Regions from separate parts of the Homo sapiens genome. Here all the other regions are linked to region 4. Evidence: fine-mapped expression QTL. A gene starts in region 4. Each other region holds a variant in brackets. All regions are shown on one strand. Distances are from middle to middle.

Region 1 (8,106 bases), 130 kb after region 4:
TTGTGGTTGTTCAGAAGAAGACAGCGGGGGCTGTTTGAGCAGGGCTGGACAGTGTTTTACAGACACTGTAGGAAACTGTCAGATGTGCCTCCCTTGGTGTTAGCTTATCCATGGGCCATAGAGGCAAAAGCTCTGTCCCATGTGATATTAGTGTTGGCTCAGAATAGAGTTAATATATAGTCATTTCTTTTTTTTTTCTTTTTCTTTTTTGAGACAGAGTCTCGCTCTGCTACCCAGGCTGGAGTGCAAAGGTGCAATCTTGGCTCACTGCAACCTCCGCCTCCTGGGTTCCAGCTATTCTCCTGCCTTAGCCTCCTGGGTAGCTGGGACTATAGGCATATGCCACCATGCCTGGCTAATTTTGTATTTTTAGTTTATTTGTTTGTTTTGAGATGAAGTCTTGCTCTGTTGCTCAGGCTGGAGTACAGTGCCACAATCTCAGCTCACTGCAACCTCCGCCTCCCGGGTTTAAGGGATTCTCCTGCCTCAGCCTCCCGAGTAGCTGGGATTACAGGTGTGTGCCACCACGCCTGGCTAATTTTTTTGTATTTTTAGTAGAGACAGGGTTTCACCATGTTGGCTAGGCTGGTCTTGAACTCCTTACCTCAAGTGATCCACCATCCTTGGCCCCACAAAGTGCTGGGATTACAGGCATGAGCCACCGTGCCCGGTCTATAAATAGTCATTTCTTAATGATCACATTTTAGGAAGATGATGCTGTTCTTTCTTCTTAAGTATTTATTTTTATCAGTCAAGTGATAGGAAGTTCAATTTCAAGTACAAGACATTTGGATCAAGAAGTGACTATTATTTATTTATTTGAGATGGAGTCTTGCTCTGTTGCCCAAGCTGGAGTGCAGTGGTGTGATCTCAGCTCACTGCAACTTCCTCCTCCTGGGTTCAAGCAATTCCGCTGCCTCAGCCTCCCGAGTAGCTGGAATTACAGGCACCCACCGGCCCAGTGAATTTTTTGCACTTTTTTTTAGTAGAGATGGGTTTTCACTATGTTGGCCAGGCTGGTCTTGAGGCTCCATACCTCAGGTGATCCGCCCACTTCAGCCTCCCAAGGTGTTGGGATTACAGGCGTGAGCCACTGCGCCTGGCAAGAAGTGACCTTTTATGCCACTGTCTCTTCCGCTGATTCCTAGCAGGCTGTGTTTTGTTTGTTTCATGCTATGTTAAAAAAAAAAATTGAAGCAGTATTTAAAAATCACTTGATTTTATGTCAAAATTAGTTTTTCTCAAGAAAGATCAGGTCTGGAAATAGTAGGCCCAACTTCTACCTGGCAGTGGTTGGCCAAGCTGGGCAGCTGCTGCCTCAGTTTTCTTCTGACCCCCACATGGCCCTGCCCTATGCCTGTCTGCTTCTCTCCCAACGCCTGTCGGCATTTGAACCTGCAACCACTGCCTGGTGCATTTGAATGTATTTTCGTATTGAGTGAAGAAAACCGTGTGTCTGTGGATAGATTTATAATTTTGAAAGGCTGGATTAGGGCTGACCGGTGACTCTTTGTGAGCTTAAGTATTTATCTTATTGAATGCCACCAAATAACCCCTTTTATCAGATGTCACATTCCCGCCTCGTATCATACGTGCTCTGATGATTGGTATGTATCCTGCTTTTGACAAGAATTCAAGGCTACTGAGCGTGATCTGGCTTATTTCCCAAGCACAGCATCCCAGGTACAAAGAGAAAACTTTAAAAACTTGTCACAAGTGGTTTATTGCTGGCCAAGAAATGATGAAAAAGCCCTTTCACGGATGGTTTCTGGCCTGAGTCCCTCACATGGGCATTTGAGGCAGGGAAAGGTGTGGGCTCTGCCCCTTTGGTTTCTTGTCACCCAAAGGAGAAAACACAACAGACTCCTGAGACAGGATCCCCTCCCCGCCCTTTCTACCTTTCCAGCATTTTATCCAGCTCGCGTCTAATGTATCTGTTCATTCATCCACCTTAACGAGGTTGTGTTTTCTGCTGCTGGCCTGACCTGCAGTTATTGAGACCCTAACTCAGGCTGTTAACAGCAGTGAGATGCAAGCCCCTGAAATCCTCTATCTTGTGTGTTACGGGGTGATTTCTTTGAACAGAAGCCAGAATGTTAAGTAACCTTGTTGTATATCACTTTGTTTTGGGAGGGAATGCAGTTATCTCAGCTCACTCCCCAGATGTTTGTCTGGCCCACAATCGAGAGGTGTTAGTGAGTACCCCACTTCTAAACTGGTCCTCCCTGAGTAGGACTCTGGGGGATGTTATGTGTCCTGTTAGAAAGTAGCTTTAAATTAACACTGACTTAAGCTAAAATGGAGGAGAGTGGAAGGGGAGAAGGAAAGACTTCCTGCAGGGCTCAGATCCTGTTGGAATCAGCTCCCAAAGAGACTGAGAACGTTCTTGTTTTTTTTTTGTTTGTTTGTTTTTGTTTGTTTGTTTGTTTGTTTTGAGACGGAGTCTCACTCTGTCGCCCAGGCGCGATCTTGGCTCACTGCAAACTCCACCTCCCGGGTTCACGCCATTCTCCTGCCTCAGCCTCCCGAGTAGCTGGGATTATAGGTGCCTGCCACCACGCTCTGCTAATTTTTGTATCTTTAGTAGAGACAGGGTTTCACCATGTTGGCCAGGCTGGTCTCAAACTCCTGACCTCAGGTGATCTGCCTGCCTTGGCTTCCCAAAGTGCTGGGATTACAGGTGTGAGCCACCTCGCCAGATCCTGCAGAGGTTTTGATTAGGATGGTGGATCCCAGGGGTGGGGAAGGGCTACAGATATAGCTGTCGTAGGCTCCTAAGCTCCACTGAGAGGCTTGCTCTAGAAGAAAGCAAGGCTAAAAGATGTTTACATACAGCTGTAATTGATCTTTCCTCAAAAGCGTTTGTCATTTCTGATCATTTCAGGTTATAGTTATTCAACGTTTCCACTAACATGAACCTGTGGGGTCTGTAGCTGGGCATGCTGGGCTGGCCGATTCTGCTGCCCAGCCCTGGAAGCCACTTCTGGTTCTGGAGTTACAGATTCTTTCTCGATTAAAGTTAAAAGCAGGCTTTTGGGGAATTAGTGTATCTCCTGGAAGCCCAGTATCACAGACTTTTCACATATTTTCAGGGCAATTAACAGGCAAAGTAATAGCTACTTGAGAATAGGAATAAAAAAATCATTTCCATAAGTGTTTGAAAGTACCTGAAGAATAATTTTTTTTTTTACTTTATTACTTAATAGGTATATAAGGAAGGATATAAATTTAGTCAGGGTTTTTTAGCTTGTACATAACTAGGTATTTGTAATATTTGAATTGTATTGGGATGTTTATTTAATTAAAGTTAAACGTAAAAGAAATGCGTATACACGTTTGAAACATTTCGGTGGTATAGAAAGCTAGAAGTGGCCGGGCGCCATGGCCCATGCCTGTAATTCCAGCACTTTGGGAGGCCGAGGTGGGCAGATCATGAGGTCAGGAGATCGAGACCATCCTGACTAACATGGTGAAACCCATCTCTACTAAAAATACAAAAAAAAAAAAAATTAGCCGGGTGTGGTGGCGGGCACCAGCTACTTGGGAGGCTGAGGCAGGAGAATGGCATGAACCCAGGAGGTGGAGTTTGCAGTGAGCCGAGATCGCGCCACTGCACTCCAACCTGGGCAAAAGAGTGAGACTCCGTCTCAAAAAAAAAAAAAAAAAAAAAAAGCTAGAAGTAAAAGCTAGAAGTAATTCTCTCCATGTGTATCACTCTATAAACATTTCTACACTGCACCCAAGCTTTTTTACATAGACAGATGGGATAATTTTTTTTCTTGTTTTTATTTATTTATTTATTTTTGAGGCAGAGTCTTGTTCTGTTGCTCAGGCTGAAGTGCAATGGCGCCATCCCAGCTCACTGCAACCTCTGCCTCTGGGGTTCACGCGATTCTCCTGCCTTAGACTCCCGAGTAGCTGGGATTACAGGCACCCGCCATCATGCCTGGCTAGTTTTTGTATTTTTGTAGAGATGGGGTTTCGCTATGTTGACCTGACTGGTCTTGAACTCCTGACCTCAGGTGATCCTCCTGCCTCGGCCTCCCAAAGTGCTGGGATTACAGACATGAGCTACTGCACCTGGCTGGTATGATTTTATATATGCGAATCATTACTGATTTGTTAATTTTAAACTTTGGAAGACAATTGTTAGCAGACAAAACAGGGCTATATTGAAAGTTAGAGTGTCTTAGTCTGTTTGGCCTGCTATAACATGGCCTGCTATAACAAAATACCATCAACTGGGTATCTTGTAAACAACAGAAGTTATTTCTCCTAGTTCTGGAGGCTGGGAAGTCCTGTGTCAGCATACTGGCAGATTTGGTGTCTGGTGAGGGCCTGTTTCCTGGCTGATAAAAGGCCCTCTTTTCACTCTGTCTCTCGCAGCAGAAGGAGCGAGGGACCTCTCTGGGGTTTCTTTCATAAAGGCAC[A/T]CATCCACTCATGAGGAACCCCACCCCCAGGACTTAATCACCTCCCAGAGGCCCCATCTCCAACTGCTATCATATTGGGGATTAGGTTTCAACATATGAATTTTAGGGGACATAAACATAGTCTATAGCATAGCCATTAAATTAAACAAATAACTAAGTGAATGAGTTTTCAAAGACTTAGGCAGGCCAGTAGCCAAAAACTAAAACTAAAAAAACACAAAATAAAAACAGAAAAACCCACTACTTGATTGGTCCTTTCTTTGAAAGGTAGAGGTCAGTATGACAGTTTCTTCCATTGGTCAAAGCTCAAAGCTCGTTAGTGCTGGCTGACTCATTATGACTTGAACTTAAATAAGGGAGAGTCTTGAAAAATAATTTCTTGCTAATGTAAATTTAGTTAATAGAAGCAACAGAAACTGAACTCGATATCTGAGCATAGTAGACTAAGGATGCATAAAGATACATTTTCAGAGCTGGAGCAGAAATGAGAAATAGTCATCTACTCCAAGATCTTTATTTTGCAGAGGCCTGTGGGGGCTGGGGGCTGGGGACAGAGCGGGGACTGGAACCCCAGTTTTGAGCTCCAGCTTGATCTCTTCTTCGGGGTATAGCAGGTCAGCTAAGATGACATCCAGGGGTTCCAGAGAAAGAAAGGACTAGGGGTGGAGAGCTGCATACCTTTGCCTTGTGGCTTCTGCAGAGCTCTCTTGGTAAAAGGAATGGGAACTCAAGAGGAACGCCAGGTTTTTTTTTTTTTTTTTTTTTTTTTTTTTTTTTTTTTTGGAGACAGAGTCTCACTCAGTCACCCAGGCTAGAGTGCAGTGGCATGGTTTCAGCTTACTGTAGCCTCTGCCTCCCAGGCTGAATCAATCTTCCCATCTCAGCCTCTCCAGTAGCTGGGACTACAGGTGCTCCCCTAGAGCCTCCGCAGCAATGCAGCAATGGTGATCAAGCGACCTTGATCCTGTCTCAGTGAGACCCTCATCCCATGTCCACCCCTGATCTATAGAACTGTAAGAAAATCTATTTGTTTCATTTTAAAACAGATGCTGGCCGGTGCGGTGGCCCATGGCTGTAATCCCAGCACTTTGGGAGGGAGGTTGAAGCAGGTGGATCACTTGAGATCAGGAGTTTGAGACCAATTTGGCCAACATGGTGAAATCCCATCTCTATTAAAATTACAAAAATTAGGCAGATGTGATGGCAGGTGCCTGTAATCCCAGCTACTTGGGAGGCTGATGCAGGAGAATTGCTTGAACCCGGGAGGTGGAGGTTGCAATGAGCCGAGATCGCACCACTGCACTCCAGCCTAGGTGACAGAGTGAGACTCCATCACGAAAACAAAACAAAACAAAACAAACAAAAAAAAACAGATGCACAGTAATTTGGTACAGCAACAACAGGAAAGGAATACAGGAGGGCTTCCAACTTCAATGCCAAACAAGCTGTCACTTTATTCCCATCCAAGTCCAAAGGTACAGTGTCTACAAAAAATCAAGAAAGAAGAAAAGGAAGGCCCTCCCACTTTCCTCTCATAAAGCTTAATCTTTAGGGGGAGTAGGGGAGGCAGGTTTTAGGAGGGTGTTGACAGGGGCTGCAGGTAGGTGATAGGGAGAGGGGTACTTGGGAGGCATCACCTCCACTGGAAGTGTTTTTTATCTTTTTTTTTTTTTTTTTGAGATGGAGTTTCGCTCTTGTTGCCCAAACTGGAGTGCAATGGCGCGACCTCGGCTCACTGCAACCTCTGCCTCCTGGGTTCAAGTGATTCTCCTGCCTCAGCCTCCCTGGTAGCTGGGATTACAGGCGCCTGCCACCACGCCCAGCTTATTTTTTATTTTTTTTATTTTTATTTTTTTAGTAGAGATGGGGTTTCACTATGTTGGCCAGGCTGGTCTCGAACTCCTGACCTCAGGTGATCCACTCACCTCAGCCTCCCAAAGTGCTGAGATTACAGGTGTGAGCCACCGCGCCCGGCTCTATTATTATGTTTTTGAGACAGGGTCTTACTCTGTGTCCAGGTGGGAGTAGTGTGGCACCATTATGGCTCACTGTAGCCTCCACCTCCCAGATCGTGATCCTCCCACCTCAACCTCTTGAGTAACTGAGACGACACACATGCACCACCCCACCCTAATAATAATTTTTTTTTTGAGATACAGTCTCGCTCTGTTGTCCAGGCTGGAGTGGGGTGGTGCGATCTCTACTCACTGCAACTTCTACCTTCCAGGTTTAAGAGATTCGCCTCCCTCAGCCTCCTGAGTAGCTGGGATTACAGGCGCATGCCACCACCTCCGGCTAATTTTTGTATTTTTAGTAGAGACTGGATTTCACCATGTTGACCAGGCTAGTCTCGAACTCCTGACCTCAGGTGATCTGCCTGCCTCAGCCTCCCAAAGTTCTGGGATTACAGACATGAGCCACCACCCTAATAATTAAAAAATTTTTTTTTAGAAATGGGGTCTCCTTGTGTTACCTAGGCTTGTCTCAAACTCCTGGGCTCAAGTGATCCTCCTGCGTCAACCTCCCCAAGTGCTGGGATTAAAAGTGTGAGTCACAGCAGCTGGCCAATTGCTTACATTTAAAAGTTAGGCCGTCTCGGGGAGAAGTCTAAATTTCTGTTTTTTCTTGAGAAACTGGAAGCTCCATCCACCCTGGCCCTAGTCCCTGCAGGGCAGTAACTGCCACCTGTGTGTATAGTGGCAGCAGCCTCCTTTGGCTGGGGCTGGGCTCCTGCTTGCCACAGCCCCCACTCAGCCCTCTTTGCTATTTGTATCAACACTCTGGCCCCTGTCTTGGAGTTTGCAACCCTCATGCCTTTGACCTTAAGCTGAGTATGTCTGGCTGAGGCCATGAGAAGGTTCTGACTTGACACCCGTGCGATGACTCTTGGAAGGGAAGAGTGTGTGCTGTGGAACTTTACACCAGGCGGATCCAGGTGCCAGTCTGGCCTAGCTTTGCCACATGCCAGCGCTGTCACCTTGGGCAACTTCATTAACTGCTCTGAGCCTTGGTTTCCTCTTCTGTGTGGACCCGTGTTCTCCACCTCAGCACTATTGACATTTGGGGCCAGATCAGTCTCTGGTGTGGTATGTCCTGTGTGTTACGGGACGTTTTGTAGCATCCCTGGCCTCTGCCCACTGGATACCAGCATTACCTCCTTCCAGTTGTGACAAGTACAGATTCCCCCAGATGTTGGCGCGGGTCCCCTGGGGGACAGAATCACCCAGTTGAGAACCACTGAAGACACTCCCCCAGTGCAGTGTGTGAGGCTGAAAGGAGAGCCTGAAGGCGAAGGGCTGTGTCAGTCAGCATTCTCTTCCTTCTTTTTTTTATTGTTTAGCTTGTTGCAGATACTTCCAGGAGTGATCCGTAATTGTGCCAATTGCTCCTTTTTTCGGAGTGGGGGTGGTGTGGGGTGGGGACGGGGACAGAGTCTCGCTATGTCACCCAGGCTGGAGTGCAATGGCGTGATCTCAGCTCACTGCATCTCTGCCTCCTGGGTTCAAGCGATTCTCCTGCCTCAGCCTCCTGGGTAGCTGGGATTACAGGTGTCCGCCACCATGCCTGGGTAATTTTTGTATTTTTAGTAAAGACGGGGTTTCACCATATTGGCCAGGCTGGTCTCGAACTCCTGACCTCAGGTGATCCACCCACCTCGGCCTCCCAAAGTGCTGG
Region 2 (8,106 bases), 38 kb after region 4:
GCATGTATGTCCTCTTGCTTTCGTGCAAAGAATAGCATCCTACACACACCTTTTAGCCCCTTGCTTTTCGGTTTTGTGTATTTTGCAGATTGGGTCATTTTGTGCACACAGCGCTATTTTATTCTTTTTTTTGTTTGTTTCCCCCTGCCTCAGGCTTATTTGTACAAATAGCACAGGAAGATACCAACCCCATGCAGACGGCAGCCCAGAGGTCATACCAATCCTTCTGTCCTCATGTTTGCAGATGGAGATCTCTACTCTGAAGCCTTTTAGGGGCGTGGGCACTTTTGAGAGCCTGAGCTGGAACTGAAGCTGGAGCTGCAGTCTGGGCCTTGGTTTGATTCTTGGCCTTTGGCCAGCACAGCCTAAGACCCTTAGCAGTGCGGGCATGAGCATGCGTCCCAAGTTTGGAGTGGGCAATGTAGGCAAGTCGATGAATTTTGCTGCCGACACCCTTTGAGATCTTGGGCTTAACCTCTTTGGACTTTACAAGGGTCTTGATAGCCTCGGCGTGTGCACTCAGGGCCTTGGTGGTGTTGGCCTGCATCTTCTTCATGCACTTCTTCTTGTACTTCTTGGCAAAGTGCATGTTCCTCAGGAACTTGGGGTTCACCCACTTAAGAAAGTCATATCTTTGTGACTGGGATTTCTTCCTTTCTTTCTTTCTTTCTTTTTTAAATTTCTTCTTAAAAAAACCAAAATGGGATACACGTGGACTGGGATTTCTTGATGCCATTTCTGTTCCATTTTCGGGCCTGGTTGTGTGTGGTTGTATGTGGACTTGGACATGTCTGCACCGAACCCACAGCTCCCGAAGTGCCTGGAACCGGAAGAGGACCTTATGCTTTAGAGGGGGTTAGGAATTTCATTTATGGCTTATCCCTGTTTATTTAACCAGTCTTCCTTTGATGAACGGTGTTATGGTCTGAATGTATCCCTTCTCCCTAAATCTGATAGTTGTATGAAGTTGGGCACTGAGGAGGTGATTGGGTCATGAAGGCAGAATCCTCATGAATTCCCTTATAAAAGAGGCAGGAGGGGCTGAGTGGGGTGGCTCACACCTGTAATCCCAACACTTTGGAAGATGAGGTGGGCAGATCACTTGAGCCCAGGAATTTGAGACCAGCCTGGGCTGCATGGTGAAACCCCATCTCTACAAAAAAAAAATTACAAAAATTAGCCAGGTGTGATTGTGCTTGCCTATAGTCCCAGCTACTTGGGAGGCTGAGAGGTGGGAGGATTGGTTGAGCTTGGAAGGTTGAGGCTGCAACAAGCTGAGATCATGCCACTACACTCCATCCTGGGCGACAGAGTGAGACCCCATCTTAAGAAAAGAAAAAGGCATGAGGGGCCAGGCATGGTGGCACAACTTGTAACCCCACCACTTTGGGAGGCAAAGGTGGGAGGATGGCTTGAGGCCAGGTGTTTGAGACCACCCTGGACACCATAGTGAGACCCTCACTCTACAAAATATTAAAAAATTAGCCAGGCATGGTGGCACATGCCTTTAGTCCCATATACTTGGGAGGCTAAGGTAAGAGGATTGCTTCAGCCCAGGAGTTTGAGGCTGCAGTGAGCTGTGATTGTACCACTGTACACCAGCCTGGGTAATACAGATTTTTTAATTTAAAAAAAAATTAAAAAAAAAAGGCCAGGTACAGTGGCTCACGCCTGTAATCCCAGCACTTTGGGAGGCCAAGGCAGGCGGATCACGAGGTCAGGAGTTCAAGACCAGTCTGACCAACATGGTGAAACCCCGTCTCTACTTAAAAATACAAAAATTAGCTGGGTGTGGTGGCGCACGCCTGTAATCCCAGCTACTCAGGAGGCTAAGGCAGGAGAATGGCTTGAACCCAGTAGGTGGAGGTTGCAGTGAGTGGAGATCGTGCCACTGCTCTCTAGCCTGGGCAACAGAATTAGACTCTGTCTGGAAAAAAAAAAAGGCATGAGGAATGGGCCTCACCAGATACTGAATCTATTGGTGTCTCCATCTTGGACTTTGCAGCCTCCAGAACTATGAGCAATACATTTCCTTGTTTGTAAATTACATAGTCTAAGGTATTTTGTTATAGTAGCGGGAAGGGACTGAAACAAATGGTTAGATTTGTTTCCAATCTCTTGCTCCCATAGTGCAGTGAGTGACCTGTACTTTGTGCATATGCACAAAGGTGATAGGCTAAGTAATTAATAAATAGCATAACTGTAACCGGATAGCTTGATGTCTGGAAACTTCTGCTAAAACAAAACAGAACAAAAATTTTGTATAAACAGTCAACCTGACAGTTTGTGATTCTCTTAAATTCATTTTTCATCTTTCATTAGAACTGTACAACTATGAAGACAGTCATTACTAGATTATTATAGGATAGGGAGAGAATTACTGGCTCTTAGAGGAGTCAGTCTTCACCATCCAGTAAGGTTTCTGCAAATACGGTGATGCGCTTTCTGTCAAATGAATCTTCCTTCGCTCCTCTCCTCCTTCCCCTTTTTCTCCCATCCTTTTCCTCTCCCCCTCCCTCTTTGCTTCCTCCATTCATTCAAAATGTATTCAGTGAGTGTCCACTGATGGCCAGCATGGGTGATTTGCACTTGGAAACAGGAGTGGCGAGAGTGGTTGGACTCCTTGAGGCTTCTGTGTGTGTCTCTGGCTTTTGGACAACTTAGAAAGGGGCCAACAAGAATGAGTTACTAGAAGTGAAACCTTAGCAGAGCCACACTCCACCATGAATGCTGGTTTACTGGAATGAGGATGCTATTTTTAAGAAAGAGCATTGTGTTTCATCATGGAAATTTTGAGCATCTGAGCAGGCAGCCTGCTGGCTCGCTCATCTTTAAGGTCCTGATGGACAGAGGCTGTGTTTTCTTAGCTCTGTACCCCAGCACCCACCAGGACCTGCTCTGTGGGAACAAGGGAAGAAGGAAGGTCTGTGGTGGACGAGTAATATGTGAGTTGTTGGTTTCACCTTAGCTGGCGACATCCCAGGGGGCTGGCAGGGCTGGGACCTTGCCTCAGCCTTTGAGTGCTGGGGCGGTGAGGTGAGCGGTCCAGCGAGGGACGTTTTTGTTGCAGTTTTTCGGGAGCTTGTACTTCTCAGAGTGCCTTGTTTAATAAAGCTCTCCTGAAGGACAAGCTGCCGTTTTTGGGGTCCTCAGAGCACCTCGTTTTGCCAGAGCAGCCCAGATTCCTAGGTGTTCCTTTGCCTCGTGGGAGGGTGACCTGGGAGTGGGGGTGCTGATGTTGGCACCAATGAGCTGTCCTCTTGGGAAAACCACGTTGGGGGCGCCCTTGGGGTCGTTCTGCCGACAGCTGGTGTGCTGGCTTCTCTCCAGGTTATATCGAGCTCTGAGACATCATCTTTGTGGCTTGCTCCTCTAATGTGTTGCTGAAAAGGAAAGCTGGGGGTGGAGAGGAGATTCCCCCGCTCCCCCTTTTCCTTTATATAGCAATCTTGGTGGAACTAGCAGCTGTGACAGCATGGGGTGGGGAAAAGACACTAGGCTTTGGAATAAGGCTGACACAGTTCAAGGCCAGACCCAGCTGTTTCTTACGTCTCTGCAAACTTGGGTGCTTTAGCTGTTCCAAGCTTCTCTTTTTTTTTTTTGGAGATGGAGTCTCCCTCTGTCACCCAGGCTGGAGTGCAGTGGCATGATCTTGGCTCACTGCAACCTCCGCCTCCCGAGTTCAAGCTATTCTCCTGCCTCAGCCTCCC[T/C]GGTAGCTGGGATTATAGGCGTCTGCCACCACACCCAGCTAATTTTTGTAATTCTAGTAGAGATGGGGTTTCACCATGTTGGCCAGGCTGGTCTTGAACTCCTGACCTCAGGTACCTCCGCCTGCCTCGGCCTCCCAAAGTGCTGGGATTACAGGCGTGAGCCACCTCGCCTGGCCCAAGCTTCTCTCTTATCTGTGAAGCATAGATGTAATAATAGTACTTACTGTGATATATTTATTTTCTTAAATCCTTTTATTCTAAAATAAAGCCTACCTTTAAAAAATTATTATTATTTTTATTTATTTATTTATTTGAGACGGAGTCTCGCTCTGTTGCCCAGGCTGGAGTGCAGTGGCAATAGCTCACTGCAACCTCCGCCTACTGGGTTCAAGCGATTCTCCTGCCTCAGCCTCCCGAGTAGCTGGGATTATAGGCGCCTGCCACCATGCCTGGCTAATTTTTGTATCTTCAGCAGAGACGGGGTTTCACCATCTTGGTCAGGCTGATCTCGAACTCCTGACCTCATGATCCGCCTGCCTCGGCCTCCCAAAGTGCTGGGATTACAGGCATGAGCCACCGTGCCTGGCTAAAAAATTTAATTTTTAATAGAGATGAGAGTCTCACTTTGTTGCCCAGGCTGGTGTCAATCTCCTGGCCCCAAATGATCTTCTTGCTTTGGCCTCCCAAAGTGTTGGGATTATAGGCATAAACCACCATGGCTGGCCGAATCTTACTTTTTGGAACACAGTCTTTTGCCACATAATGACATATCAACCAACCACAGACCACATATATAACAGTGGCCCCATTAGATTAGAATACTGTATTTTTACTGTATTTTTTCTATATGTAGATATGTTTAGAGACACAAGTACTTACCATTGTGCTACCACTGCCTGTCTTATTCAGTACAGTCTCATGCTGTGCAGGTTTGTAGCTGAGGAATAATAGGCTGTACCATTCAGCCTAGTGCATAGCAGGTGATGGCAGCCAGGTTGTGTAAGTCACTCTAGAATGTTCCCACAGTGCCGAAATGGCCTAATGCGTTTCTTAGAGCGTATCCTTGTCGCTTAACAATGCAAGACTGTAAATAATTTGGGATTGGGGACAAAGCATCTTTTTATTTATTTATTTACTTATTTTTTGAGACGAAGTCTCAGTCTTTCGCCAGGCTGGAGTGCAGTGGTGCGATCTTGGCTCACTGCGACCTCCGCCTCTTGGTTTCAAGCGATTATCCTCCCTCAGCCTCCTGAGTAGCTGGGATTACAGGCACGTGCCAACACGCCCGGCTAATTTTTGTATTTTTTAGTACAGACGAGATTTCACCATGTCAGCCAGGATGGTCTCGATCTCTTGACCTTGTGGTCTGCCCACCTCGGCCTCCCAAAGTGCTGGGATTACAGGTGTGAGCCACCGCGCCTGGCCAGGACAAAGCATCTTTTATTTGGACCACAGCTTCGTGGGAGCTTCTGCTCTGTTTTCTTGTTTCACTGAAAGATGAAGCCTCAAATATGGCTGTGGTCCTGAGCCAGAGAAGATGCTGTAGAGAAAAGCAATCTGCGAAGAGTGGGCAGACATGAGCACAGCCTCGATGCGTGGGCGTGGCCTTGATGCGTGGGTTTCTTTCCCACAGGTGCTGCGAGTGGCTGAGATGCTGCGGTGGAGGGGAGGCCAGGCCCCGCACTGTCTGGCTGGGGCACCCCGAGAAGAGAGACCAGAGGTATCCTCGGAATGTCATCAACAATCAGAAGTACAATTTCTTCACCTTTCTTCCTGGGGTACGTGCAGGCAGGGACCGTGCTCTTTTCTTTTTTCCATCACAAATACATGCATTGGTACAGATGTTATGTCATGTCATGTTATTTTTTAGACAGAGTCTTACTCTGTCGCCCAGGCTGGAGTGCAGTGGCGCAATCTTGGCTCACTGCAACCTCCGCCTCCTGAGTTCAAGCGATTCTCCTGCCTCATCCTCCTGAGTAGCTGGGATTATAGGCATGTGCCACCACGCGTGGCTAATTTTTGTATTTTTAGTAGAGATGGGGTTTCACCATGTTGGCCAGGCCGGTCTTGAACTCCTGACATCAGGTGATCCACCCACTTCAGCCTCTCAAAGTGCTGGGATTACAGATGTGAGCCACCTTGCCCGCCGGTACAGTCTTAAAAGACTGAGTTCCCTGTGGCAGATGTCAGTGACTTTTCTGTGCCACCTTAGTCCCTGGTTGTTCATCTTCCCTGGGTTCAGCACTGGGTAGTGGCGGGGTTGGAGGTGGGGTGGGGTGGAGGGGGCACCTGCCTTCTCTCTGCAAGGCTGTGACCCCACCTGCTCAGTTAGAGTAACTTCACATGTATTTGGTGTGCTAAGCCTAAGAATGAAAAAGACATTCTGGGGACCTAGCATTATGACCAAAACAGCAGAAAAGAATGTCAGCAGTGCTTAAATTTCCCCCCATCATGACACATGTAGTCAATATTGGCAAGTTGGGAGATAATAGCTTAGAGGAGAAAAAATAAAGATGCATTTTAATCTTACCATCTATAGAGAGAATTTTCATTAGTATTTTTGCTAATAATAAATGTTTCTGGTGGCATAACACTTCCACATTAACTTACACAAATCTGTGGACATGTACTCAGCAAACCTTCTCCCCAACATGCACATAAATTAAATATCTATTTTTATCCAGCACTGCCTCCAAACACACACCAGTTGACTTTGAGAAGCAGCAGTAGCAATCAGCTCCAATGCAGAAAGGAACATAATGGTAGTGTTAGATATTGAGTGATAGTGCAGAGGCACAAATCTATTATATAGTCGAGTTCAAGGTCAATTGGAATTTGTTTTTTAAGAGACCAGATCTCACTGTCTTGCCTGGGCTGGAGTGCAGTGGCATGATCAGAGCTTATTGCAGCCTCAGACTCCTGGGCTCAAGCCATGCTCCTCTCTCAGCCTCCCAAACAGAAATTTGAATTTTTTTTTTTTTTTTTGAGATGGAGTCTCGCTCTGTCGCCCAGGCTGGAGCACAGTGAGCCATCTTGGCTCACTGCAACCTCCGCCTCCTGGGTTCAAGCAATTCTCCTGCCTCAGCCTCCCAAGTAGCTAGGATCACAGGCACCCGCCACCACGCCCGGCTAATTTTTTGTATTTTTAGTAGAGACGGAGTTTCACCATGTTGGCCAGGCTGGTCTCGAACTCCTGACCTCAGGTGATCCACCCACCTTGGCCTCCCAAAGTGCTGGGATTATAGGCACGAGCCAGCGCTCCCAGCCGTGAATGTTTTTAAGGGTGATTTTGACTATATTCATTGCTGGTTTCCTCAACTCCCCCCAACTCTCAGTACCTCAAGTGAGGAATAGGTTTATTCTCATTCATGGAAAGTCTGATGCAGACTGGGCCACACTCCTCCATTTCCTGGGTATGGCACCTGGACTATGTGGCCACCAAAGTCACCAGAGTGGCTCAAGAGGCACCAATGGTTCTTAGCTGCCTTAGCCTCAACGAGACACAGTACGTCCATTCATTACCTATTGGCCCAAACTAGTCATGTGGTCTCAGTCTGACTCTCGGGTGCATGCCAATGGTCAGAACCACACTAGCACCTAGCTGCTCCCCAGGGGAGGATTTGACTGTGTTATTTTATGGAGTTGAGGTCATGTTGTGGACATAGCTTTTTTTTTTTTTTTGAGACTGAGTCTCCCTCTGTTGCCCAGGCTGGTGCACAATGGCGTGATCTCGGCTCACTGCAACCTCCACCTCCCGGGTTTAAGTGATTCTCCTGCCTCAGCCTCCTGAGTAGCTGGGATTACAGGCACGTGCTCCCATGTCCGGCTACTTTTTTTATTTTTTAGTAGAGACAGGGTTTCATCATGTTGGCCAGGCTGGTCTTGAACTCCTGACCTCGTGATTCATCCGCCTCGGCTTCCCAAATTGCTGGGATTACAGGCGTGAGCCACTGTGTGCGGCCATTTAACTTTTTAAAAATTATTTTTTATTTTATTTTTTGAGATGGGGTTTCACTTTTTATTTTTTGAGGTGGGGGACTCATTGTCACCCAGGCGAGAGTGCAGTGACATGATCTTGGCTCACTACTATCTCCGCCTCCTGGGCTCAATTGATCCTCCCACTTCAGCCTCCTGAGTAGCTGGGACTACGGGTGCATGCCACCACTCTTGGCTAATATTTGTATTTTTTGTAGTGATGGGGTTTTACCATGTTGCCATGGCTGGTCTCGAACTCTTGAGCTCAAGCCATTTGCCAACCTCGCCCTCCCAAAGTGCTGGGATTACAGGCATGTACCACCACGTCTGGACATGCTGTGGACGTAACTTTTTTTTTTTTTGAGATGGAGTTTTGCTCTGTCACCCAGGCTGGAGTGTAGTGGCGCGATCTCAGCTCACT
Region 3 (8,106 bases), 170 kb after region 4:
TTGTAGAAGGCTTGTGTGTGTGTGTGTGTGTGTGTGTGTGTGTGTGTGTGTTTTTAAAGAGTCCTAATGTGTATGTACTCTTTATGTCTTTCTTGCTCTTACAAAGAGGTGTCAGAAAAATAGAAAGCTCTTGGTGTCGGTTTGGGAGGAAAAGACAGTGACATTTGGTAAAAAGTTATCCACACAATAATCTCCATTCGGAAATGCTCAGTATCGTCTCCAGCCAGCCCTGCTTATCCAGGTTACACTGGATTCCTGGGATCGTAACCAGTAAATGAGAGGAGAGGGAGAGAGAGTGTCCTAAGTCCAATCTGTTATCCTTGATCTGATTCAGCATCCATAGTGTGTGAGTTAACTTCACCTGCCACCTCGTAAAAGAATTTCAGAGGTGTGATCCCGCTTTATTGGGACCTGGTAACAATCACAAAGCCAGTGGCTGTTTGAGAAGGACCTCAGACATTTTCAGCAGAGTTGTTTTAGCAGGAAACGTGCCACTGAATGGCCCCTAAATGTGTCGACAGTGTGATAAGAGACTCAACTAATTCTTTAGGCAACATGGCAGATGTGACTCAGATCCTCCAAGACCAAAGCGGAAAGGTCAGGGGGCTGGGACTCTTCTCTTCCATAGAAGCCTGTTTCCTGTTAGGAGGCATAATGGAAGATGACCCCACAAAGGCAGAGGCATCTTTCGGAACAACACTGGTGGCAGCTTTCAGAACAAGGAACCCCTGGTGGGAGGACGCCCAAGCTACAGCGTTGGGATCTGGGATCTGTTCCACTGCCGGCAGATTTCAAGGGGAACTTGCTGAAAGGCAGCCAGTGGTGAAGATTTCTCCCCTCCCAGGATGGACTACATGCCGGCATGTTTCTTATAAAGCTGTGGCTGCTTGTTTCAGAGGAAGGGAGTTTGCAGTCGCGGGACGTGGTAGAGCAAGGCATTCTTGGGTTTTCAAGTTGCTTCTTGCAGAAGCCACATATGCATGCCATAAGGGTTAAGTTGGTGGATCTTTAAGAGCCAAGTGTGGTTGAGATCTTGGATTTGCGTTTACTTCTTGATGAATACATATCCTTCAAACCCTCTGCCTGGCGCTACTTCTGTGTGCTTCAGAGATGTACATCACAGCCTGGTTTCTGATGCCTACTAACTCCTGCTCTTGGAGAGCTGGAGACACGAGGATCAGATAGTCCCTTGCCTTTGGAGCACTCTTGATAAGCTTTTGTATTTTGTGTTGTCCTTTTAAAATGTTCTAGAATGACTTTACGTTGCAGGTACTGGTTAATTGGCTGTTGACACCACATCTATTTTGTCTTATGATTCTGCAGTTTTGCAGTACTTTTCTCTATCTGATTCAGCCATTTCTGCCAGAGGGAAAAGGTCGGCAGAAAAGATGTATTGAGTGAATAGTTAAGGATAGGATCTTTGTCCAAAAATTTCAGAAAGATTGAGCAAATCTGACGTATTCATTGAGTGAGTTTCTGTGTTTTCAAAGGTGGAGGAGAAATTTGTGCTGGAAGTTTTTAAGCCTCCGTTTTCTTGGAAATCAGTCTGTAACACTGGCAAGTCTTAAGATAGTCCCATTTAGACTTTGCAGATGCTGAACCTGGCTCTGTAACGCTGGGAAGTCTTAAGATAGTCCTGTTTAGACTTTGCAAACCCTGTACCTGGCTTTGCTCGGAGATTCGGGATGCTGGCTCCTGCAGGCAGGGCGTGTGGGAGCCTCGTCAGAAAGTTTTAGAGGTTTCCAGCAGAAGCAGAATGAAGATGGTCTCCCTGGCCTTTTCCTTAATTCTCAATTTTGATTGAGGTGCACAAGTTGACTTTTAAAGCCAACGCTTAAGATACTGATTGACATCTTCAAGGGAGAATGCTCCCAGGAGGGGCTGAAGAAGCCATAGTTGGAAGTGGAAGGTACTCGTCAGTGTTCTCCACAAACCTTTTTACTCTGTTGTCTCAGCCGCACTGGGGCGGAGGCGGTCAAGGGTGAGAAGTACCGACACTCAAGTGCAAACTGCCACGTCGTTGGCCCATCCCATCAGTGGGCAGCTGGCTGACGCCATTCACTGGACGGTCCCTGAACACCTAGGAATGCACACACCGTGCTTCTCAGACACTGGAGACGCAAAGGCAGGAGGATGCAGTCCGGTGAGAGGACACGATCTTTACCTGCACAATCAGACTGTAAGCCCAGCAGAGAACCCCAGGGGCGCCTGGGTACTTCTCGGAGGTCATCTTAGTTGTGGTGGGGAAGACAAAGAAATAAGCAAACAAGAAACTAGAGTTACTATACAAGAAACTCTCCTGAGTTTGTAAACCTTAAGCATAAGGATTCAGTTGACCTTTTTCTTGGTTCATCAATCTGGAAAGAACTTACATAAAGCGCCATTGACACTGTCACCTGGGAGCTCCATGGGCCGTAAGTCTTTGACAGCCAATTTAATTTGAGGTCAGAGGGCCTTGAGGTACACAGTCAGCACTGTTTGAACACTTTTCCTGAAAGCAAAACTCACAGCTCCCTGCGCCCTCTGACAACACTAGCTATTTCTGCCAGAGTAAGAACTTCTATTACTATTTTATTATTGTTCATATGTCTTTTGATGATGGTTGTGTGACAGGGGGAAGCAGGATCTATTTGGTTTCTTCCCCTCCCCCCACCCCTTCCTTTTTGTCTCTCTTTTTTTTTCTCTAAGAAAATCACCAGACTAGTTTTTCCATCTTGAGTAATTTCTTATGTGGGACAGTTTTGATCCTCATTTTGAAAGCATGCGTGTGCACATGTGTGTTGCCTGTGGTGCCAGGTGAGACAGGTGGCACTAACTCCAGCTGCTTGGAAGGCATCCCAAGGGCGCATCTTAAAGTTGGAGCAGACCTCCCTTTTCCAGCCCCTGGGGCCATTAGACCACGTGCTGGAACTAGCATTGTAAAATTCCCATCCCAGTTCCACTCCCCTGAAGTGAAACCCTTTTTTTTTTGTGACAGTAAATCTTAAAAATCATTGTCTCTTTATGAACATTTCCTCAGTTTCTTCTCTGCTGAAAATGTAAGCCATGCTACTTTTTAATGTATTTTGAATTTTGTGCTCATTGGAAATTGATATGCTAATGCCTCCCCCACCCCCCGCCAGACTTTTCTTTTTATACTTTGTCTTGTTTTTACTGGGGTAGGCTGGGCATGCGTGCGTGCCTTTAGGGCAGCATTTTAAACCTTTGCCAAAATTGCAAATGGGACATGTACATTCTTCTGCTCCATCCTACTTAAACACCTATCAGCTATTTTTATCTTTAACCTTTTCTGTATGTTTGAAGTGTGTGGGGGGTGTGTGTGTGTGTGAAAGAGCGAGAGAATGATGTCATCTAAAGTTTTTTGAAGAATTATTTGGTTTTCATTGCATTAAAATTCTATCACTCCCAGCTTTGTTTTCATTTAAAAAAATATACAAAGAGCTTTGTAAATA[C/T]AACACATTTTATTTCTCCCCCTTCTTTTAATGTACAGCTTTTTTGCCACTTATATATACTTAAAATATTCCCATGAATTATGTCCAGTTCTTCTTGGAAAAAAATTTGGTTTTGAATGAACCTGCAAAGCATCCTGCAGCGTGAGCAGCTCCTCCACCTGGAGCTCCGAAGCATCTTCTCAGGCCAAAGCGGCATTACCCGTGAATCTGTCTTCTCCGCCACAGCATGGTTTGAGGCGCAGTCTGTTAATATAGCTGGGCCATGTCAGTGACTGTTGTGTTTGTGGGGTCAGGTGGGGGGCATGGTATTTGCAAAAAAAACAAATTATGGCTAATTTATTATTTTGTTGCAGTGGGGTTAACTGTAAACTCATGTAAGAGTCTGTGATTTCCTCATTGGTTGATCTCTCTCTCTGTAATCCTCATTGCAAATTTTCACCAGGACAGCGTTTTTTGATTAGAGGGGAGCTCTGGCACAGTATGCTTTAATTTAGCAGGAACTTCCAGATGATTTAAATTCTCGATGCTGTGATGACACACATATGATCTTTCGTGTTTCTGAGCGACTCTACTTTCATTGTTTGCCAGCGTGGCTCGTTGCTGTTGCCCAATAAAGCTTGTGTACGTTCTGCCTTGGGGGATTATTTTAATTTGTACAGAAACATGAATTCTGGTATCAAAATGAGGACTTTTTATTATAACGCTCCTATTTTTTCTTTATTTCATGGTACATGAAATGTAAAGAAAACTCTTTCCAGTTCAGAAAATTATTTTGATTTTGGCAAAAAAAACCCCAAATCAATGCATGTTATTTATTATTTTGTACTATTGTCCATCCCAGACGTGTCAGAATTTCAAAAGGTGATAGATATAAATGGAAAATAAGATGAAAACCATAAGCTTCATATTGTATTTCTATACACGGTCCTCGATGACTGGAATCTTTTTTTTTTTTTTTTATCGAGGGATGGAACATATAGGAACAGTCAGTTAAGTTTTAGGCAGAAAAAATTTTTAAGGCCCGGCGCAGTGGCTCATGTCTGTAATCCCAGCTTTGGGAGACCAAGGCAGGAGGATTGCTTGAGCCCAGAGTTTGAGACCAGCCTGGGTAACGTGGTGAAACTCATGTACAAAAAATACAAGAAAACGAGCTGGGTGTACTGGCTCAAGCCTGTGGTCCCAGCGACTTGGGAAGCTGAGGCGGAACAATCACCTGAGCCTCGGAGGTCGAGGCTGCAGTGAGTCGTGATTGTGCCACTGCACTCCTGCCTGGGCAACAGAGCAAGACTCCGTCTCAAAACAAAACAAAACAAAAAAAGCTTTTGTGTAGGAAGTAGTTGAAATCAATTGGGTGATTTTTGTCCCTTGGGGGACACGTGGCGGTATGAAGACCTTTTCAGTTGTTACAACTCGGGGAAGAGGAGTGCTACAAGCAAGAGATGCTGCCGAACACCCTGTGATTCACAGGGTGGCCCCCACAACAGAGCCCAAAGTGTCAAAAGTGCCAACATTGAGAAACCCTAATTATTTTTTTTCGAGGTGGAGTCTTGCCCTGTTATCTAGGCTGCAATGCAGTGGTGCAATCTTGGCTCACTGCAACCTCCGCCTCCCAGGTTCAGGCGATTCTCCTGCCTCAGCCTTCTGAGTAGCTGGGCCTGCCACCACGCCCGGTTAAGTTTTGTATCTTTAGTAGAGACGGGGTTTCACCATGTTGGCCAGGCTGGTCTCGAACTCCAGGCCTCAGGTGATCTGCCTGCCTCAGCCTCCCAAAGTGCTGGGATTACAGGCATGAGCCCATACGCCCAGCCAGAGAAACCCTAATTTAATTGGCACGTGTCAGCTGTACCATTTGTCTGTCTGTATTTGTAAAAGGGCCCGGAGGTATAAGCTCGTGTGTCTCAGGAAGCAAGTTATGCCTCCGCCTACTATACCAAATACTATACCAAATGGTGTAATTAGTGGCTGTCTGCAGTGTGAGCTGCTGGTTCCCTCTTTTTGGTTCTCAATGGAAAGGGCCATCCTCAGTATATAGATTAGAAAGATAATTGTAACTTAGTTGTGTTATCTCATGACAGCAGCAAAAGGAAGGTATGTGGTTTCAAAGGTAGGGACCGACCATGCTTTCCCTTAAACGTGTGCTATCCCTGCACGACCTTAAGCCTCTGCATTTGCCTGCAGTGAACTTCCGTCCATGTGCGGACACTCCTCCGCCGGAGCCGCTAGGGGGAACTTGAGGACTGAAAGACATTGCTGTTTCCTGTTTTCCACAACCAGCCGGACCCCACGTGCCCAACTGCCCTGAGTTTCAAGACTGTGCTTTCATAGCTTCAGAATTTATTTCATGGCCAGAGGCTCCGTGAAAAACAGACATTTCTTTTCATGTTGTTGACCAGAATATTTTGCTGGACTTAGTTAAAAAAAAAAAAAAGGAAAAAAAAAAGGCAGGGAGGGTGAGAGATGAATATTTATTTGCTCTTGGATATTTGCATTTTTGAATAATTGGCAAGTAGGAAGCTTTGCCAATTCACTGTTCAGTCTAATAAGGTTTTGAGACGAAATGTACCAACACCCCAAGTACTTTTAGTGTTTTTGTTATGAAACTTTTCAGGGTGACATGAAGCCCTGTGGTATTTGTGAGGAGGTCTATAAATGATGGATTTGCTCACCTCAAAATAGAACTGTAGTCGCTCCAAATTTTCCAGAAGTGGGAGCACAGTGACAGAATTCATTCAGGACTTGCTAATTTCCTACTTTAAATGGGTTACATAACAGAACCGGTCCCGCCTTCGCGCCTCTCAAAACTACCCATGAAGTGATGGTGAAATGTATCATTAAAAGCTAGAAATAGCTCTGCTAAACTCTGGGAAAAAGATGAATTTTTTTCTGATCTCCCTCTCCCCACCCCCCTTTTTTCACCCAAACATTGCATAATGTTAAAAAAGTCAAATCTTTCCGTGGGATTTAATTTCATTTTCCATGTGGCTGTGGTCGGAGGGGTAACTCAAGCACTTTGGGGGCTGGTGGATTTTTGGAGGATCACGCATTCCCGGATCAGTTTGCATCCAAAGCCTTAGCCGAGAAATACACCCAATCCTGGGGTTTCTCCCCATCCCTCCTGCCCCCCTTTTGTGGATGAGTTATCTATAACATAGCATCTTTTCAGAAAGCCTGCCTTCTTGCAGGAATGCCCAAACAAAGCCACCCTCCACTTTCCATGTTGACGTTTTGATTTTGAAATGGATTCCCCCTGAAATTTGGGGTAACTGAGTCACATGTGAAGTCATCGGCCCCACAACCTATGCTTGATACCAAGCCAGGGCTCATTTCTTAGAATTCAGCCAGCAGGTTCTGTTTGCTTACATTAAGAACTTGGTGTTCTAAGCCTGTGGTGTTTGTTTTCAAGAGATTTAAAAGAAATACATTTTTTTTCTTTGATCAGATCAGGTCCAGATAAGCCCAGGACTATTTTTTATTTCCTTTGAGAAAGATTGCAGAGTCCAGAAGGAATGGAAAAAGTGTTGGGGGATGGGTAGGAGATGTGCAGAATATGCTGACATTTTTATTCCTTCATTGATCAAATATTTGCTGAGCACTTCCTATGTGTTAGGCACTGTTCTTGGGGCTGGAGGCGTGGCAGGGAACCAGACAAGCGTAGTGTCTGCCCTCATAGTGATTACACTCTGTGTGTGTGTGTGTGTATGTGTGTGAAAGACAATAAACAGATTAAGACTAACATCAGGTGGAGAGAAAGCTTCCTAAGATAAAGCAGCCTAAGGGTTAGGCAGAGGATGACAACCAGGTAGGAATAAAGGTGGGGAAAGTGCTGGGAGTCAGAGATGGGCCCACTGGAGCAGAGGGCTGCAGGATGAGAAGGAGGGTGCTGTGCACCTCTGGACCCTGTAAGAGCAGAAGCTGGTAGTGATGCCCCCCAACCTATCCATGTGGGTGCCAGCCACACCGTCCCCCTCAATTTTCTCATGCCTTGTGGGGTTTTTTTTTTTAATCTCAAGGAAATTCTGCTTTCTATTCCATTAGTGGATTTAATGTAAAAAAAAAAGTTTTTAATGATTGGCCAATTCTATTCTCCAAGATCCCCAAGTAAATGGATTCTTTTTTTTTTTTTTTTTTTTGAGACAGAGTCTTGCATTGTCACCCAGGCTGGAGTGCAGTGGCACGATCTTGGGTCACTGCAACCTCTGCCTCCCAGGTTCAAGCAATTCTCCTGCTTCAACCTCCCGAGTAGCTGGGATTACAGGCACGTGCCACCACACCTGGCTAATTTTGGTATTTTTAGTAGAGGCGGGGTTTCACCATGTTGGCCAGGCTGGTCTCAAACTCCTGATCTCAAGTGATCTGCCTGCCTTGGCCTCCCGAAGTGTTGGAATTACAGGCATGAGCCACCGTGCCCAGCCAGTCAATGGATTCTTGAGGAGTCCCTTTGCTTTCTCCTTGGGCTGCCCCATGAGGGGTATGTTCTCTAGTCAGGGATGCCCAGGCCAGCCTAGCATACTGGGGGGAGGTTCATTTCTAACTTTGAACAATGGCTAAGGCCACAGGACCCTGGGCAAGTTTGCAAAGGCAGAGCGTCATTCAGAGAGATCTGGGGAAGTGACATTGTGGTTGCAGTGTGTGCAAAGGCCCCGGGGTAGGAAAG
Region 4 (8,106 bases):
GAGATCATGCCACTGCACTTCAGCCTGGGCAACAGAGTGAGACTCCATCTCCAAACAAACAAACAAACAAACAAATAAATAATAAAGCAGGAGTGGGCTTGGAGGTCTATGAACATAAGGCTTCATGGTGGGCCAAGATGAGAGTTTCAAGGTATATTCCGGCTCCAGCCTGTCATCCATCGGGCATGGATGGCATGTGACATAGAGGCATGTGACATGACCTCTTTGGGCCACAGTCTCTCTGATTTCTGGAAAGTAGAAGTTGGACTAGATTGGCTTATCCCTCCAGGACCTTTCCACTCCACATACCTAGGAGTCAGGGGTGCACTGTACCCAGGACCTATTGGATGGAGAGGATTGTCAAGGGGCTTTTCCTGAGGAAGCAGAACCATGAGGTGACTATTCCTGGGCAGAAGGTAGTGCTGTGTCAGGAAGAGGGGTTGCTGTATACCCAGAAGGGGGCCTCAGATTAACCTCTCACATCTCATCACTTCCCCCAGCCTTGCCCCTCTCCTAGACCCTGGCACCGCTCTGGTGATCCCTTGGGTGTCTCGCTTGTCCCAAGCAGGCATCTGATTCTCTCTCAAGATGAGATTTAAGCCTGCAGGTGCGTCCCTTCCTGAGGGATTACCTTGCTGAAAAGGAGTTTCGGCCTGGTGCAGTGGCTCACACCTGTAATCCCAGGACACTAGGAGGTCAAGGCAGGAGGATGGCTTGAGCCCAGGAGGTCAAGGCCAGCCTGGGCAACATAGTGAGACCTTGTCTCTATAAAAAATAAAATAAATTAGCCTGGCATGCAGTGCACACCTGTAGTCCCAGCTACAATAGAGCAAGACTCTGTCTCTTAAAATAAAAACGGCCATGCGCAGTGGCTCATGCCTGTAATCCCAGTACTTAGGGAGGCGAGGCAGGTGGATCACCTGAGGTCAGGAGTTTGAGACCAGCCTGGCTAACATGGTGAAACCTCTTCTCTACTAAAAATATAAAAATTAGCCGGTCATGTTGGTGTGTGCCTGTAGCCCCAGCTACTCAGGAGGCTGAGGCGGGAGAATCGCTTGAACCTGGGAGGCGGAGGTTGCAGTGAGCTGAGATCATGCCACTGCAATCCAGCCTGGGCAGCAGAGTGAGACTCTGTCTCAAAAAATAATAAGAATAAAAACAAAAAGGAGTTTTTTTAAATGTATTTTCTCCTCTGATTATGAAAGCGTACTAAAGAAAATTTGGAAAGTAAAGGCCGGTTGCAGTGGCTCACGCCTGTAATCCCAGCACTTTGGGAGGCCGAGGCAGGTGGATCAGGAGGTCAGGAGATCGAGACCATCCTGGCTAACATGGTGAAACCCTGTCTTTGCTAAAAATACAAAAATTAGCTGGGCATGGTGATGGGCGCCTGTAGTCCCAGCTACTGGGGAGGCTGAGGCAGGAAAATGGCGTGAACCCGGGAGGCGGAGCCTGCAGTGAGCTGAGATTGTGCCACTGCACTCCAGCCTGGGCGACAGAGTGAGACTCCATCTCAAAAATAAAAATAAATAAATAAAGAAAGAAAATTTGGAAAGTAAAAAGGCAAAAACAAAACAAAACAAAACAAAAAACCACCTACAATTTCCCCCTCTCTTTCCATATGAGAGTGTTAGTACCTTTGAGGGTTAATAGTGGGCTCTTTCATCTTTTAAAAACTTATTTAAAGAAAAAATTATTGCAAAAGCAACACGTTTTGCTAGAGAAAAAGTAGAGAGTATTGACAAAACAAAAGCAATGAAATATTTAAGATCCACCTGGATGTACCGCAAAATGTTAATAAGGGAAACTGTCCCCATGACTGGGGACATGGATATAGGATGGGGACATATGAAACTCTCTGTGCTAATTGCTTATGTTTTCTATAAATGGAAAACTACTAAAACAAAAAATCCTGCTAATTAAATTGTATTTTAAAAACCCACCTGGAATCTTTCAGGGATGAGCATTGATAATGCTGTTGTGTTCATTCTTGAATTAGGGAAAACTATGAATATTCATATCATAGAAGTAGGACTTTTAATAGCTAACCTTTTCTTTCTTTTTTTTTTTTTTTTGAAACAGAGTCTCGCACTGTTGCCTGGGCTAGAGTGCAATGGCATGATCTCGGCTCACTGCAACCTCCGCCTCCCGGGTTCAAGCAATTCTCCTGCCTTAACCTCCTGAGTAGCTGAGATTACCAGTGCCTGCCACCATGCGTGGCTAAGTTTTTGTATTTTTAGTAGAGACAGGATTTCACTATGTTGGCCAGGCTGGTCTCGAACTCCTGACCCGTGATCTGCCCGCATTGGCCTCCCAAAGTGCTGGGATTACAGGCGTGAGCCACTGCGCCCGGCCGTGCCCGGGTGATTTTAATATATTTTTGTATTTTTGTTTTTTAGTAGAGATGGGGTTTCACCATGTTGGCCAGGCTGATCTCGAATGCCTGACCTCAAGTGATCCGCCCACCTCGGCCTCCCAAAGTGTCAGGATTAGAGGTGTGAGCCACCGCGCCCGGCCTCCTTGGTCTTCTCTTGTACCCTGTGTAGTAGTGGGGTTGAGAAGAGGGTGTGGAGTTTGAAAGGGGGATGTCTAGCAAAGCAGATGGGAGATGGTGGGACCCACACTGATGCCATAATTGGTGTGTCAGGGTGTTTATCCTTCTTCCATGCAAGAAGCCTTTATTGAGTGCCAACTTGTGCCATGCTATGTACGAAGCATCATTTTAGATGTAGAAGAGACAGCAGGAAGCAAAGCACACCAGGCCTGTTGGCTGGAGAATGCTATTTCCTCTCCAAATGTGCAATGCAGCAATTACTAATGACATGCTTCTTTTCTTGAGGAACTTCTCTGGTGCATGAGATAAGTCACACTTCTTGGTTTGAGATCCACCTCAGACACTGGGATATTTGGTGGCTCCATCCTGTGTGACAGCAAACACAAAAGGCATCCACTTGCTGGCAGTTAGCACTAACTTAAAAAAACAAACAAATAAAACAAAATAAAAGGGCCAAGCGCAGTGGCCCGTGGGAGCAGGGAAAGGCTTCTGGTGAGAGTTGGAAAGGTGGACTGGGCCGGATGCTCTTCCTTCATCCCAATTAAATCTCTATGGCATTTAGCAAATGCCAAGGAAGAGCCCAGCACTTTGGGAGGCCGAGGTGGACAGATCACATGAGGCCAGGAGTTCAAGACCAGTCTGGCCAACATGGTGAAACCCCATCTCTACTAAAACTACAAAAATTAGCCAGGCACATGTATAACCCCAGCTACCCGGGTAGCTGAGGCAGGAGAATTGCTTCAACCTGGGAGGCAGAGATTGCAGTGAGCTGAGATTTTGCCACTGCACTCCAGCCTGGGCGACAGAGGGAGATTCTGTTTCAAAAAGAAAAAAAAGAAACGGCGTCCAACATGATCAGTCATTAGATGTAACTATGTAAAAGTCAGCTTTAGATTAGTTTATATGGTATTATTACAATTTCAGGCTCTTTAGTTACATATTGATTTTTAAACTCCCTCACTTTGTTCCTTCCCTCTGTTTTTTTTTTCCTGCTCTCATAACTTTATCAGGCCTTTGAAAAGTTCATGGGTCCCAGACACTGTGTGGGAGGGTGTGGAAGTGAGTGTGGATGTGGGCTGCGGTGGAGATAGGTGTGTGTGTGAGACCGTGAATCACAGTGACAGGTAATGCAGGGTGACTGTCTGAGGCCTGAGAGTGGGGCCCATGTGCAAGCCCAAGAAAGTGGCTGGTGTGAGAATGAGGGTGTTCAGACTATTGAAGGGTGTTTGGATGAAAGAGGCAGGTGCGTGTGTGTCATGGTGAGTTCCCAGAATCCAGATAGAGAATGAGGGTGAGGATGGTGAAGGTCAGAGGGTGAAGGAGTCTGATAAGCTGAGGGTCCCTGTGTGACTGTGATTTCTGCAGGCACATGGGTGTGAGGCTTGAGAAACTGGGTGCATGGATGATGGTGACCAACAGGAGGGTGAGAGTGTTATGTGTGTGTGCAGGACTCACATGTGATTGTGAATGTTAGATGTTGCAGGCAGTGAGCAGTGGCAGGTGTGTGTGTAGGGCCTGGGCGTGAATATGCACGTTGGTGCAAGAGTGAGTGAGAATGACTGACTGATGGGGTGAGCGTGGCCGGGTGCCCGTGTGATTGTGCATGTCAGATATTGGTGGGGATGAGTGTCACAGCGCGCGTGTATAGGGCTGGGATGTGATTGTGAATGTGGGATTTTGCGGGGGGTGCGGTGGCAGGGTGCGCGCACGGCGGGCGTGGGCGGGGGGCGCGTGGCCGGGTGGGCGCGCGTGGGGGGCGCGGGCGCGGGCCGGGGGCGGGGACACTGCAGCGGTCGCGGCGGCGCGGACACGGCCCGGCCGCCCCCCGTGGCAGGCGCGGCGCGGCGCGGAGCGAGCGGGCGCAGCGCGGAGCTCGGGCCCATGGTGCGCCCGTGTCCGTCGGTCGGGCCGCGCGGGCGCTCCGCGCGTGGCCCGGCGCTCGCGAGCTCGCCCCCTCGCTGCGGGCCCGGCCCGCCCGCTGCCGCCGCCTCCTCCCCCGGGGCGGCGCGGCGCCGGCGGGCGGCGGCGCGGAGGCCGGACCGGGCGGCGGCCCAGGCGGCGCGGGGGGCGCGGCGGCCAAGGCGGGCGGCGCCGCCGACATGACGGACAACATCCCGCTGCAGCCGGTGCGCCAGAAGAAGCGGATGGACAGCAGGCCCCGCGCCGGGTGAGTGGGCCTGGGCCCGTGTTTTCCTTTGTCCGCGCCTCCCGGAGCCCGGCGCTCGGGCCAGCCTGGCCGGGCCTGACAGGTTGGCCGCGCGCCGCGCCCGGCGCCATGAGCCTGGGGCAGGGCTGGGGAGGCGGGGAGGTGGGGAGGGGGTCCCTGCGCTTCAGCCCCGGGCGGCACCTAGCCTGATGCCGGCCCTTTGGGGTTCGAGCGCCCGGTTGCCTGGGCCTCCTTGCCCACCTTCCTTTAGAAACCCCGAGAAGCCGGGCCCGCCCCAGTGCTGTTTACACACTCGCGGAATTCGGATCAGCCGTGCTTTCTCACCGTTTTATTGTTCCGTAATTAATATCTGTCCGTAATTAATATCTGAGGTAACAATTTGGTCAGTGTCACACCGAGCTCTGCGCTTGGAGCATTACTCGGGAGCCCAGATATGCTCAGCTTTTAGGGGGGCGCGGCCTACGCCTCGGGGTACCCCATCAGCGCCCCTGGGTCCCAGCCCCAGGAGGCTGCGCCGAGACCACCTGCGCTCCGGTGGCCCCTTCCCCCTCCGCCCGGGGTGGACCCGAACCAGCAGTCGCAGGAGGGTGGGAGGGTCTCCTACTGGCCGCTTGGTGACACTACCCCTTGTGTTCTCCCCCCACAATTTCGGGGAAGGAATCCCACGGCTGGGACAGGGGCTGCCACCTGCTGTGCCCTTCCCGCAGTAGGAGACCCCGAGGGCAGCTTAGGCGCGGAACAGGCAAGGGTTTTTCTGCATTTGGGAAGAGGGGACGGGTTGGTATTTTGCGCCTCGCCGTCTTCCTGTTCGGAGGATGGCAGCGTGACGCGTTGAGGTTTGCGGGGCTCTCGTATCGCCTGCCATAGACTTACCTGGGCGTGAGGGGCGGGGGTGGGAAGGACGGGGGTGGGCGCTGGTGCAAATGCAGATTTCCCGGCCCCCGCCTAGACCCGCCAATCAGAGTTCTGGGGGGCGGGGCCTGGAGATGTGCAGCTCCACAGGCCGCGCAGGTGAGGCTGGAGCCCGCGGGAGGCTGAGCGCGGTGTTGGGCGGGGCCTGCGGCCGCTCTGCTCCGCCCTTCCTCGGGCGTCTGGTCCTCTCTGGGCATTTCCCGGTGGCGGCCGCTTATTGCAGCGTCAGTTGCTCGGAACAGGAGACGCGGCGGGTGGAGTGAACCATAAGGGTGGCTTCACCAGGTGTCAGTGGAATTAAAAAAAAAAAAAAAAAGAATGGTGCTGGCGGCCATTTTGTGGGGTCTTTGTCCCTGGCTTCCTGAATCCTCCGAAGAAGAGGCCTCACTGATATTACCCAGAGGAGGAAACTGGAGGTTACGGAGGTTAAGGGCTATAGGGAAGACTGCAAAATGGAGATTGAACTCCGGATTGTCTGACCCAAAGATAGTTCCCTCACTCCTCCCTTCTCTGTTTTGCGTTTATTATTATTAGTATTATTATTATTATTGAGACGGAGTCTCCCTCTGTTGCCCACGCTGGAGTGCTGTGGCGAGATCTCGGCTCACTGCAACCTCCGCCTCCCGGGTTCAAGCAATTCTCTGCCTCAACCTCCCGAGTAGCTGGGATTACAGGCGCCCGACACCACGCCTGACTAGTTTTTGTATTTTTAGTAGAGACGGGGGTTTCACCATCTTGGCCAGGCTTGTCTTGAACTCCTGACCTCGTGATCCACCCACCTCGGCCTTCCAAAGTGCTGGGATTACAGGCGTGAGTCACCGCGCCCGGCCTCCTTCGTTTTAATGATGACAATTGACTTGAACACTATGCCTGGAACAGTGCCTGGTACATCGTACATCCTCCGTAAATACTGTGATGAATTAATATGATCAGTGGAGTCTAAAATCCAGTGGTTATTAATTTGTGCCATGAGCAATTATGAGACGCCTACTATGTGCAGGAGCCACTCCAGCTGATGGGGATGCAAGGATGAATTAAAGAAGACCTGCCCAACAGGTGTGGGTGTCCTGACCCTGGCTGTTCATTGCAATCACCAGGGAAACTTAACTAGCCTTTTCTGATTCATTCTAGACCTTTGAAATAAGAATTTAGGGTGGGACCTGGGTTTCTATCTATATATTTTAATAAGCTCCCCTGATGATTTTAACATGCAGTCAGAGTTGAGAACTTTTGAGTCAGTACATGAAAGAAAAATGCAAATATTGTTCAAAAGTGATCATTAGCGTGATAGAAACATGAGCCGTTCATATGGAGAGCCAGAGGGAGTGGTGCAGATAATTTTATTTAAAAGTAAGTTTTCTAGGTTGCGTTGGAATGGAGCATCACAGCCCCTTTAGAATTTACCAGCTTTGGAACTAATCTTTCTTTTTTTTTGAGACGATGTAGTTTCACTCTTGTTGCCTGGAGTGCAATGCCTTGGTCTTGGCCCACTGCAACCTCTGCCTCCTGGGTTCAAGCGATTCTTCTGCCTCAGCTTCCCAAGTAGCTGGGATTACAGGTGCCCACTACCACTCCCGGCTAATCTTTGTATTTTTAGTAGAGAGAGTTGTTTCACCATGTTGGCCAGGCTGGTCTTGAACTCCTGACCTCAGGTGATCCACCTGCCTTGGCCTCCGAAAGTGCTGGGATTACAGACGTGAGCCACCGTGCTTGGCCTGGAACTAATCTAATTCTGTTTTTTTTTTTTGAGATGTAGCTTCACTCTTGTTGCCAAGGCTGGCACGATCTCGGCTCACTGCAACGTCCGCATTCCAGGTTCAAGCGATTCTCCTTGAATCAGCCTCCTGAGTAGCTGGGATTACAGGCATGCACCATGCCCGGCAAATTTTGTATTTTTAGTACAGATGGGGTTTCTCCATGTTGGTCAGGCTGGTCTCGAACTCCTTACCTCAGGTGATCCACCCACCTTGGCCTCCCAAAGTGCTGTGATTACAGATGTGAGCCACTGTGTCTGGCCAATCTATTTCTTAAACAGTGACATGGATTTGGATTCAAATTGTGTATCAGGGTTGCTGTGCATTTGCGTAAATGCTCTTGTATATAATCTGCATTTTCAGGAGTAGCAACATCAAGGTGGAATCCTGAAGTTTAGAAACTCTTGAGAAGCACAGAGAGATGGAGGAGCTTCCTGAAATAGAACTAGGGGCTGGGGGATGGCAGCGTGAGGGCTAAAGTGGGTGGGTGGTTAAAGGAAGAAAAAAGTAATATGTAATGGGTCAGGCTGTCTGCTGGACACTTGAGATAAATAGGGCTGTTTTAATCCTTACAACAACCATGTGAGTTTTTGGAGTTAATTCTCCCATTTTAGGGGCCAGATGTGGTGGTTCAAGCCTGTAATCCCAGCACTTTGGGAGGCCAAGGTGGGCGGATCACTCGAGGTCAGGAGTTCGAGACCAGCCTGGCCAACATGGTGAAA

What was found.
Region 1: its variant is fine-mapped to the expression of ATP9A in whole blood (TOPMed, PIP 0.96).
Region 2: its variant is fine-mapped to the expression of ATP9A in caudate (GTEx, PIP above 0.99). The same link has a PIP of 0.9 or more in substantia nigra.
Region 3: its variant is fine-mapped to the expression of ATP9A in whole blood (INTERVAL, PIP above 0.99).

What each region holds. Positions count from the first base shown.
Region 1 is chr20:51,639,834-51,647,939 of GRCh38, reverse strand. All of the region lies in intron 14 of ATP9A (ATPase phospholipid transporting 9A (putative)), which reads left to right. Among named protein-coding and RNA genes, the nearest start is that of NFATC2, 100 kb to the right of the region's middle. The variant A/T (reference allele first, on the strand shown) is at 4,432.
Region 2 is chr20:51,727,216-51,735,321 of GRCh38, reverse strand. It overlaps ATP9A (ATPase phospholipid transporting 9A (putative)), which reads left to right. Exons shown (of 28, transcript NM_006045.3): 2 at 5,344-5,488. It also overlaps the pseudogene RPL29P35. Among named protein-coding and RNA genes, the nearest start is that of ATP9A, 37 kb to the left of the region's middle. The variant T/C (reference allele first, on the strand shown) is at 3,711.
Region 3 is chr20:51,592,753-51,600,858 of GRCh38, reverse strand. ATP9A (ATPase phospholipid transporting 9A (putative)) reads left to right here. Exons shown (of 28, transcript NM_006045.3): 28 at 1-4,345. Among named protein-coding and RNA genes, the nearest start is that of NFATC2, 54 kb to the right of the region's middle. The variant C/T (reference allele first, on the strand shown) is at 3,453.
Region 4 is chr20:51,764,914-51,773,019 of GRCh38, reverse strand. It overlaps ATP9A (ATPase phospholipid transporting 9A (putative)), which reads left to right and starts at 4,630. Exons shown (of 28, transcript NM_006045.3): 1 at 4,630-4,718. The coding sequence starts at 4,651.